2 separate regions of the Homo sapiens genome follow, and region 1 is linked to region 2. Evidence: fine-mapped expression QTL. A gene starts in region 2. The other region holds a variant in brackets. All regions are shown on one strand. Distances are from middle to middle. Region 1 has its middle 25 kb from the start of P2RY6. Region 2 holds the start of P2RY6 (pyrimidinergic receptor P2Y6).

The links. PIP is the estimated chance that this variant, and not a neighbour inherited with it, causes the effect.
Region 1: its variant is fine-mapped to the expression of P2RY6 in subcutaneous fat (GTEx, PIP above 0.99).

The regions. Positions count from the first base shown.
Region 1 is chr11:73,244,815-73,250,191 of GRCh38, forward strand. It overlaps the pseudogene OR8R1P. Among named protein-coding and RNA genes, the nearest start is that of P2RY6, 25 kb to the right of the region's middle. RefSeq lists enhancers at 3,979-5,178, 4,574-4,623, 4,694-4,753. The variant T/C (reference allele first, on the strand shown) is at 2,583.
Region 2 is chr11:73,270,092-73,275,468 of GRCh38, forward strand. It overlaps P2RY6 (pyrimidinergic receptor P2Y6), which reads left to right and starts at 2,247. Exons shown (of 3, transcript NM_001277204.2): 1 at 2,247-2,375. RefSeq lists enhancers at 1-692, 269-318, 693-1,485.

The DNA of each region.
Region 1 (5,377 bases), 25 kb before region 2:
AACAACAGGAAGAGGGATTGTGAGGACATGAAGGTTGCAATTTTAAATAGGGTGGTTGGGTGAAAAGGAGGCATTTGGGCAAATACTTGAAGGAGGTGTGGGAGTTAGCCAAATGGAAAAGAGCTCCCAGAAAGAGGGACCAGTAAGTGCAAAGCCCTAGGGCCTGCAGCTGGGGTGGAGTGGGCCTGGAGGGGAGGAGGGGAGGCCAGAGGTCGGGGGAGATCTGGTAGGACATTGAATGAGAAGGGAAGCCATGCAAGGTCTGAGGAGGAGACAGAATCTGACTTACATTTTAGAAGGATTGGTCTGTCTGCTGTGCTGAGAATAGACCACAGTGGGGCAAGGTCAGAAGTAATGACTACAGGGAGGAGCTGTTGCAGAAATCCAGGTGAGAGCTCAGGCTGAGGACTGGGACCAGGTGGTAGCAATGGAGGTGGGGAGAAGTGGACCAATGCCAGATGTATTCTGAAGGAAGAGTGAATGGGATCCTTTATGGATTGGATGGAAGGAGGTGATAAAAGAAGAGGGGGTGCAGAGGATGCCTACAATGTTTTGTAGACAGTGACCCTGAGATCTAGAGAAGATGTAGTGTGAGGCCACACAGCTAGTCAGTGGGTGGGGGTGGAGGAGAGGAGGATGGGACCAGGGTGGCGGGAAGGTCCTCAGGTCTAGGACAGCATCTGGGAGAGGATAGGGGGAAGGACTCTGGCATAGCTGGTCACAAACCAGCCCCAGGGCAACTGAGCATTGATTTGATCAATGGCTTTTTCCTCTTCCCTTGAATTCCCCTATGATGGCCTTTTAATTGGGTCCATTTGTTCCAAGGCCGTGGGCTGAGCTGAGCAGACGCCAAATGATATGCCTATTATTAAATAGATTAGGAAATGGCCCTACATCTTGGGCGGCCAGAAAAACCAGAGTGACTGAACAGTGTCCCTGAGGAGTAACACGTGTATTGTGGAATACTGGATGTATTGCAGAATCCCTTCCAGGCACCTTGCCTTTCCTATGCTGTCCCTGCGTCTACAGAATCCTTCTGACTTCCTTGCTCACCTGAAATGTGTCTCCTCCTCCAAGATTCACTTCAAATCCCCTCCTCGGTGAAGGAGCTGAAGGAGCGCGCTAATCGCCACCCCTCCCTCAGCCTGCCTGAGCTACTGCCACAGAGAACTCACACATCTGCCTGGCAAGAGATCCAACCTGAATTGGAGGGTCTGCCCTAGGGGACACTGTCCAAGTCAGGGTTGTCCAGGGAACAGGATTACCCAAAGAACATTTAAATAACAATCCCACTTCAGTAAAAAAAAAAAAAAAGATGTCTCCATTTCCTGAGCTGGAGTCAAAAAGGGTGGCTGGGAGGCAGCAGAGAAGAGGAGTGAGTGTAAATTCCGTGTGATGGAAATGAGTGGCAATTTAAATTCGACTGGAGAAAAAGAAAACTTTCATGTCAGTATCAAACTCAGACCATTTTTAAAAATCGGTTTCTTCCATTTTAGACATTATATACTGGTTTCCTTTTGTGAAATGAGGCTTTAGTTCTCTTCCTTCTCTCATTCTCCCATTGCAATTTTTGATTAAATATTCAGTGCTTCCATTTTTATGATGTCAAAAATGTTGCTCACAGTGACATCTTAGGGCATTCTATGTTTATATTTTCTTTCTTGCATAACTTTTTGTTTTTCCTGGAATTAATAACTGCCTCACTGTACATTCCTAAGAAGGACATATTCTAAGGACAAAGAGAACTAACTCTAAAGAAATCTGAAGCAGTCTTTGTAATCATATTACAAGTACGGTTACCCCTGAACATCATGGGCTTGAACTGCATGGGTCCACATATATGCAGATTTTCTTCTGCCTCTGCCACTCCGGAGATAGCAAGACCAATCCCCACCTTCCACCTTTTCCTCAGCCTACTCAATATGAAGATGAGAGGGATGAAGAACTTTATGATGATCCACCTCCACTTAATGAGCAGTAAATATATTTTCTCTTCCTTATGTTTTCTTAATAACATTTTCTTTTCTCTAGCTTAATTTATTATAAGAATACAGTATATGATATATGCAACATACAAAATATGTGTTAATCAACTATTTATATTTTCGGTAAGGCTTTGGTCAACAGTAGAATATTGGTAGTTAAGTTTTGGGGGAGTCAAAAGTTATATGTGGATTTTCAACTGCGTGAGGGGTTGACATCCCTAACCCCTGCACTGTTCAAGGGTCAACTTTAATACTATTGATGGTGTTAGTTTGAAACTATTACATGTAGTAGGATATAATGAAAATCTAATTATGTTAATGTCACTGGAAACCAACATTTTCAACATAAGAGAAAAGAGATACGAATATAAAATCAAAGAAGAAAAAACTACTATCAGTATAGTCTTGGATTTGGAAACATCTGTATAAACTCATGATGCTTTTTTCTCTTTAAAAAGTATTCTCTATTTCTAACTTCTAAAAAGGCCTGGGAACAATAACTAGCCCTGTGATGCTGAGCACCTCTAGTACCCGCTTCAAAGGTTCTAAATGTATTTCCTATTAAAAGGAACAAGGGCTTCTTGGAGAAATGGCTGA[T/C]TCTGGGTTCGTGGCAGGAAATGCATAAGATGGGTTCAGAATATTTTGTCATACAAAAAGCAAGTTGTCAGCACTACTAACGTTGTGTTTAAAGGACATAAAAACCAACTTGAGGACTGTGCTGCACAAAGATGGGGTATTTTAAGTATCAAAAAGAATAATGCCTACGATGGATTGAAACATACAAATCTGAAACTTGTGTTTCAATCTATGAGTTTATAATGATACTAAGAGCAAACAAACAAGCAAACGTGTAGGTCTGTTCTGTAGGTTGGTAGCTTATCAATGTATTATTCTGAAAGGCAGGTTAAAAGGAAAAGAATCTGTCTTTCCTATACAAACTGTATTTCAGAGTAACTAAATAGACACCGAGGAAAATTCTTCTTTACTGAACTCCAGCCAATAAATGAAGAAGGTATCACAGAATTAAATATCATCATTTTGCATGCCCTAATCAATTAATGCCTGTAGGCCTGGGGTGTCCAATGTGGCAGCCACTACCCACAAGTGCCTACTGAACATTTGAAATGTGGCTTATCGGAATTGATATGTGGTATAAGTGTAAAATACACACTAGATTTTTGAAGACTTAATACAGAAAAGAAAGATTGTAAAATATCTTGGTTTTTATATAATATTTTTGATATAACAGATTAAATAAAATATATTATTTAAATTAATCTCAGTATTTCTGATTACTTTTTTAATGTGCTTACTTTAACATTAAAAAATATACCTATATGCTTTGCTTTCTATTTCTACAGGCAAGTCTGAGCAGTAATCATCCCAATGGTTGCTAGTCTGATAACACCAGAACCCAATGGCCAATATTAACATCACAAAAAAGAGAGAGAACTAGACATTATGTCCTGCTTTATGGGGTACAAAGAAGTACACACCACCTCCTATGAAGAATTCATAGGTGAACCTGAATTTGATCAAACCTCTAGATCTAACTACCAGTTTTCAGAAAATACAGGTGACTGAGGAAGTTGAGATAGCAATAGGTGATGAAATTAACCAAATCCAGAATTTGAGAACCTTTATAGGATACACGACTCAGTTTCTTTAATGGCAAATTAAAAAAAAAAATAAGTGTGGAGGAGGAGTAGACATCAGAATGGAGGTCAAAGCCAAGGTTCCATCTCTTCTCCCTGCTACAGAGATATGAGGCCCCAACTCCCTAAATACTCAGAAGCCACCTCAGAGGAAACAGGGAGAAAATCTGAAACAGAAGAGAGACTGGACAACATTTTTCTCCAGCCCTCTGTGGGGCAGGCACACATGAGAATCAGCAGATCTGTTACAGGCAACAAAGGAGCTGTGTTTTCTTGGGGTATATATTCCCAAAGGCGATGCCTGCTGGAAATGACTCCTCTGGGCCTGCATTTACTCTTGCTAGGTTGACAAGTTGTCTCCATGGTGGGGAACCTGGCCTTGATTGCTCTAATTGGCTGAAATTCATACCTTCCCACCCCCAAGCTCTGTTTTCTTTCACCCAGTCCTTCCCTGATCTCTATTGTCCTGTTTGCACCCCCAGAATGCTCATGACTTTTGTATCAAAGAAAAACATCTTCTATGTCAGGTGCATGACTCAGCTGTTTTTCTTTTTATTTTAAACACTTTCTTTAAAGACAGGGTCTTCTTGTTCTGTCACCCAAGCTGGAGTGCAGTGGCACAATCATAGCTCACTGCAACCTTGAACTCCTGGCTCAAGTGATCCTCCCACCTCAGCCTCCCAGGTAAGTATGACGATAGGATACCACGTAAAACCACACCTGGCTAATTTTTTAAATTTTTGTAGACATGAGGTCTTGCTATGTTGCCCAGGCAGTCTTGATCTTCCGGACTCAAGTGATCCTCCCACCTCAGTCTCCCAAAGTGCTGGGATTACAGGCGTGAGCCATCGCACCCGGCCTCGCAGCTTTTCTTTCTCTTTATTGTCCTCTCTATAAATACCACGTGTTGATGTTCATAGCCTGTGGTTGCTTTGTGGCCATCTACAATCCATCATTGCATGAGGTCACCATGTCTCCTCAGGTGAGAGAGAGAGAGAGACTGGATTTGCTGGAACCACTCCCACACAGGGCACATACTTAGGCCGACCTTTTGTAGTATTGATGTCATCAACCATCATCTTATGACAGCCTCTTGGTCCTCTAAGTTTCTTGTACCAGCACCTGTGCCAATGAAGTAGTGGTTTTCACTGTGGTGGGTATTAATAGTACAGTATCCAGTCTTTGCTTCTCTTACTTTCATTTAACTTGCTCAAGGCAAACTAAAACCTTTCAGCACCTGCAGCTTTCACGTCAATGCCATTTCTGTTTTCTTTGAGTCAGTGGCATTCATGTATCTCAAATATTTTTCTCCAGGGTCTATGAACCAGGAGATGTTGCTTTCTGTTTTCTGTTACAATTTGAGGTCTGTGCTGAACTCCCTGTTTAAAGCCTGAGGAACAAGAAGAATGCTGGTTAAAAATCCAGGAAAGTGGTGATAATGTAGGGAGATCTGTGATGGTTAATTATATGTGTCAACCTGACCGGGCTAACGAATGCCCAGATGGCTGGTAAAACATTGTCTGTGAGAATGCTTCTCAAAGAAATTAGCATGTGAGTAGGCGAACTGAGTAAATCAAATGGCCCTCCCCAAGGTGGGTAGTCATCATCCAACCCATTGAGGATGTGAATTAAAGAAAAGGTGGAGAAAGGACAAATTCACTCTCTCTTTCTCACTCTCTTTTTTTTTTTTTTTTTTTTTTTTTGAGACAGAACCTTGCTCTGTTGCTCAGGCTGAAG
Region 2 (5,377 bases):
TCTAAAAATTTGCAAACTGCCTTCTTGTCAGTGTCTTGCTCATTCTTCATGACACTCCTGATATGTAAGTGCCTTCACTTCCTCTATTTGGCAGATGAGGGAGCTGAGGCCAGAGAGGGATGGGACTGCCTGGACTGCCTGAGGTCACACAGCAAGCTGAGGCAGGGTTGACCAAAACTCTCATGAGCTGGGGTTGCAAGGAAAATGCCTTCAGCTTCCTGGGGCTTGGGGTAGGAGAATTTGGCTGTCAGAGCCTGGAGGGTGGGGCAGGCTGGCACTACCAGGTGGGCCTGCCACAGAAACACCTCACACTCCTTTACCAGGAGCTGACGGGGGGCACAGCCAGCCCCTCACAGGCCAGCACTGTGCTGGGAGGCTCACCCCTGAACCTACCTTTGTGGACATGCCAAGAGAGGGCAGGAGAGGGAGCTCTGCCTTGCTGTGTGACCCAGGCAAGTCCCGACCCTCTCTGGGTCCAGCGCCCTCTCGCCTACTGGGATATTGGGATTGGGGATTGGTTGAGGGATGTGCTCCCTCTCTGGACCACAGAGGAAGCAGAGAGCTTCCCCAGGGCTGGGAGTGGGGCACAAGCTCGGGATGCTCCCTGCCAAAGCGTTGGTGGCCCTGAGTTGCTGCCTGTGCCCAGGGAGTCCCAGTCTTCGCACTAGCCTGCTGCTGAGATCCACTGAGGCAGAGCCTGGCACAGAGTGGGGGCTTGGGGCCTGGGGGAGGGTCTCCTCCAGGCTAGGTGGCTGGGAGAGGGTGATCTGGCAAATCTAGATGGGGCCTGTCCACCTGTCCGAGGCTGCAGCCCCCTAGCTCTCCGCCCCTTACCCTCCTTTATGTTTCTATATCGCTGCTCTTATCACTATCTGGCCTGCTATATATTTACTCATTAACCAAAAGAAACTAATCTCCCCTGCTAGACTACAGGTGTCTCAAGGGCAGGACTTTGTTTTTTGACCTCAAGTGCGTTGAACATTACCCGAACAGAGTAGGTGGCCAATAAGTACCTGTAAGAAAGAAGAGGAGGAGGAGGAAGCAGGAGAGTCATCTTACAGACGGGGAGGGCCCACCATGGGCCCAGGTAGAGCCGCCCGGGCTGCCTTCTCCTCATCAAGCCCAAGCTCAAGGATGGATTGGCGCTGGGGAGGGGAGGATTGCCTGGGGTCAGCCTTTCCCCCCCGGCATCACCCTCCATCTTCGGTGCTGTAGCAGGACGAGCCGCGGACAAAACCCTTCAGACACTGAGATAGTGAAGGGAGTGGCTTTAATCAGCTGGGAGCATCGGCAGGCTAGCATCTTAAAATCTGAGCTCGTCAGGTGCTCAACTTCTGTCCCTTTTAAGGGCTCACAGCTCTAAGGGGGTCCACGTGAGAGGGTCGTGATCAACTGAACAAGCCAGGGGGTACATGATAGGGACTGCGAGCACCGGTGGTCAGAGTGAAACAGAACAGAACGGGAGGTTTCACAATGTCCTTCCATACAATCTCTGGAATCTATAGATAACAACAGCTGCTAGGTCAGGGGTCGAATTTTAACTACCAGGCTTAGGTCAGGCAGGCCCAGGCCTGGTTTCGGGTCTGGTTCCTTGGTTTCGGGTCTGGTTCCTTGGTTTCAGGTCTGGTTTTTAGGCGCCGGGCTACCTGCCTTTAGTTTCGCTTCTCTTTCCTTTTCCGAGTATAAAACAGTATGAGAGGGTCTCTCTCCTCCCTCAGTGCCATCCTCATCCCTGGGTGGGAGTTGTCTGGATCCATAGGGTTGGAGCCACAGATAACAGAGCCATTAATCTCGGGGTCTCAGCCTCTCTTAACGGACCTTCCAGGCACTGCTGAGAAAACCAGGTTAATGGTTTCCTGCGGCAGCAATGAGCAGAAGCAGGGCCATCTCCAGACTCCAGAGAAGCCAGGAGAGGGCTGGGGTGATAATGGGGAGGAGGATAAAAAACAGCCACCCAATGCGTGCCTTCCCTGTGCCAGGCCCTTGTCCTGAAATGTTATCTCACTCCATCCTCCCAACAGTCCCTTGGGCTAAATTGGTGATGCTGCTTGTTTGAGTGAGCAAACAGAGGGTGAATGAAGTGACTTGCGGGCAGCTGGGTAGAGGATGAGTCAGCATTGGTGTAAAGGACTGGAGCTTCAGGGTTCTCGGGATTCGAGTCCTGGCCCTGCTGCTTGCCAGCTCTGTGCTGTGGCAAGTTACTTCCTCTCCCCAGGTCTCTCGGTTTCCTCATCTGCTGCCTCTCCAGACTTCTGCCAGAACATTGCACGCGACAGTTTCAGGCACAGAACTGACTGGCAGCAGGGGCTGCTCCACGAGTGGGAATTTGCTCCAGCACTTCACGGACTGCAAGCGAGGCACTTGCTAACTCTTGGGTGAGTTTTCTGGGTCCATGCCTGGAAGGGCTTGCGCCCCTCAGCTCCCCTAGGAGCTTCCTGAGTAACTGCAGTCCACTTGCAGCCACCGAGGCTCATCACAGGCAAGAGTGGCAGTAGGGCAGGCACTGGGGTCCTCCTCCTTCCTCCGCCTGGCTATGCCTGGAGCCTGCAGACTGCACAGCATGGAGGGACGAGGCACCGCAGGACGGGGTCAGTGGGGGCGGGGAGGAGATGGACACATTGGTGCTGCGCCGTGCCTTGCTGGAGAAGTGGAATAGCTCAGTCAGGATTCGGAGCCACAAAGGTCTTGGTTGGAGTGCAAATGGCTGGCAAGGGCACTTTTCCTCTCTGGGCCTCAATTTCTTACTCTCTAAAATGGGGGCAACCGTGGTCTCTCCCTGCGTATGTGAACACTGCTAAGTGTAGTATCTGGAGAGGGGTCCTCACGGAGGAGGCTGGGCCCTGCCCTCAGAGCTCCCCAGGAACTTTGGTTGAGGGAATGAGTAGGAAGGATTAGTGATCAAATAATTGTCCACAGAGGAGGCCCTTGGGAAGCCTCTCACCTCTGCCATTCCAGCTAAATCTTAAGACAGCCTGGAGCTGGCCCCGTGAGAGTGGTTTGGAAAAAAAAAAAAAAAAAGTCCCTGAGTCCAGGTGTGACTTGTTAAGGGTGAAAGGGCCTATCTGGGAGAGCTGGGTTAAAACTTTTCCAGAGTTTCTATTGCCATTCAGCTCTGCTGACACCGACACAGAGAAAACAGGCAGCCCAGCCCATGCGTTCAGCCCCGGCCTCTTGAAGATATTTGGGACTCTCATCTCTTGCCAGCTCTAGAATGGGTCATATTCAGGGAAACTCTCCACCCCTCAGTATCAATGAGATGAAAAATGAGAAGGCCCTTTGCAAACTATAAAGTGTTGTGCCCCAGAAGGTGCATCTGTGTGTGTGCCAAGCCCCTGGGTGTGTACGTGAGAGTGAGAATGCCCAGCTTCCAGTGTATGTGTGTGTGTGTGACTGGCTGGGTGGGTGGAACTCTACACTCCCCTCGACTCCCTGTGTGGCTGGGACTCTTCTAAAATTCTTACAATCTTTTTTTGCATTTCCTCACTGTTTGTCAGTTTATCAGAAAGGGAGGGGGCCATGGTCCAGAAACCTGGAAATCGTTTCTGAGCCTGCCGACTCTTCTCTCCTGCCCTTGCCTTATCCTGTGGCTGTCTCTGGAGACCTGACTGCCGGGAGCTCCCAGCATGGCCTGTTCTGCCAGAAGCTTGCCTGGCTTCTCTGTGCAGCCCATCCACCACCTGTTTTTCCATCTGTGGCTATGCACTGGCTGTTTTCACACCACTGTCCCACTGACGCTTTTTATTTTGGGATTTTTATTTTTTTTAAGATAGAGTCTTGCTCTGTCACCCAGGTTGGAGTACAGTGGCACTGTCATTGCTTACTGTAACCTTGAACTCCTGGGCTTAAGCAATCCTCCTGCCTCAACCTAAAAGTAGCTGGGACTACAGGCATGTATCACAATGTTCAACTAATTTTTAAAAATATTTTGTAGAGATGGGGTTTTGCTATGTTGCCCAGGCTGGTCTCAAACTGCTGGCCTCAAGTGCCACTGACTCTTTATAACATCCCAATGCCCTCCAGAGATGGTATTTACTGTTCCCATTTTACAGGAGAAGAAATGGAGGCTTGTTGAAGGGAAATGGCTCTCCCAGAGTTATCCAACCAACTAGCGGCAGTGCTAGGGTTTCAATTCTTACCTAACTCCAAAAACTTTATTAACTGTTGTGGCTTACCTAGTAGGTGTGTGTTGGCTCTTTGGCTGAATGAATAAATAAATGAAATAACGTGAATAAATCATTCCGTCAAAATTGAGCTGAAAGAGAAAGTTAAGCAATAATAGCAAGGTCTGTCATTGACTGAGCAACTACAATGTGTCAAGTGTTTTACACAAAAATGAAAGCATCAGGAGGCTGAGGCAGGAGAATCATTTGAACCCAGGAGGCAGAGGTTGCAGTGAGCTGAGATCATACCACTGCACTCCAGCCTGGGTGACAAGAGCGAGACTGTCTCAAAAAAAAAAAAAAAGAAAGAAAGAAAGAAAAGAAAAAGAAAAAGAAAGCAGTCAGAATTATTGTTATTCCTATTTTGCAGCAGAGGAAGCTAAGGCTCAGAGAAATTAAAGGATCCTGTCCAATGTGGGAGCTGGGACTATAATTTGTCAGTGTCCAGGCCCCAGAGCTCTGAACCTAGCTTTCCTGGTTCCTTAGTGTTAGAGTGAGTCGGCAGAACCTGGCAACAGGTGCCCATTACAGCAGAGGACCCGGGGCCTGTCGAGACTCTCAGGAAGCTGGGTGCAACAGCCCACCCTGCCCCCTCCTGCCTTGGGACCATTTCCCCATTTGTCTCTGAAATAGGTTTCTATTTCAGGCTGGGGTGGGGATCCGGCAGCCCAGGCTCTGGCTCTCCCTCTGTGACTGTTGGCTTGTCCAGTTAGGGCCAATGCCCCGGCATGGGGTGATATATTGCTGCTTCCCCTGTCCCAGGGCTGGCCCTGTCATTAATAGCTCCATGGGAGGGCAGGGTCTGAGCAAGACGCAGTCATTTGGTCTACGGAGATGGCGTAGGCTGGGTCAGTGGCTTCTGTGCCCAGCCCTGTGTGGATTCCAGGGACCCAGGGGCTAGTGGGTCCAGCTCTCCCCTTAGGAACTCAGGGGCTGGGTACTGAGCTCCAGGAAGACGAACTCTGCAGTAGCTGAGACAGAGCCTGGCATCCTGACTCCCAGGGCAGTGCCGGTTTTCATGGCCTGGGACGGAGTGGTGGCTGTCCTGTGGTACCAGGAGGCAGATCTCAACTCAGAGTGAGGGATAACCTTGTTTCTATCATGCCAGAGGGATGGGAACCAGCCTTTCAAATCAGCCCACAGTTCCTGAGTGTCCTATCCCTTCTATTGAGGGACAGGGGCATGACAGGGACAGACCTGCACAGGAGAAGGAGAGC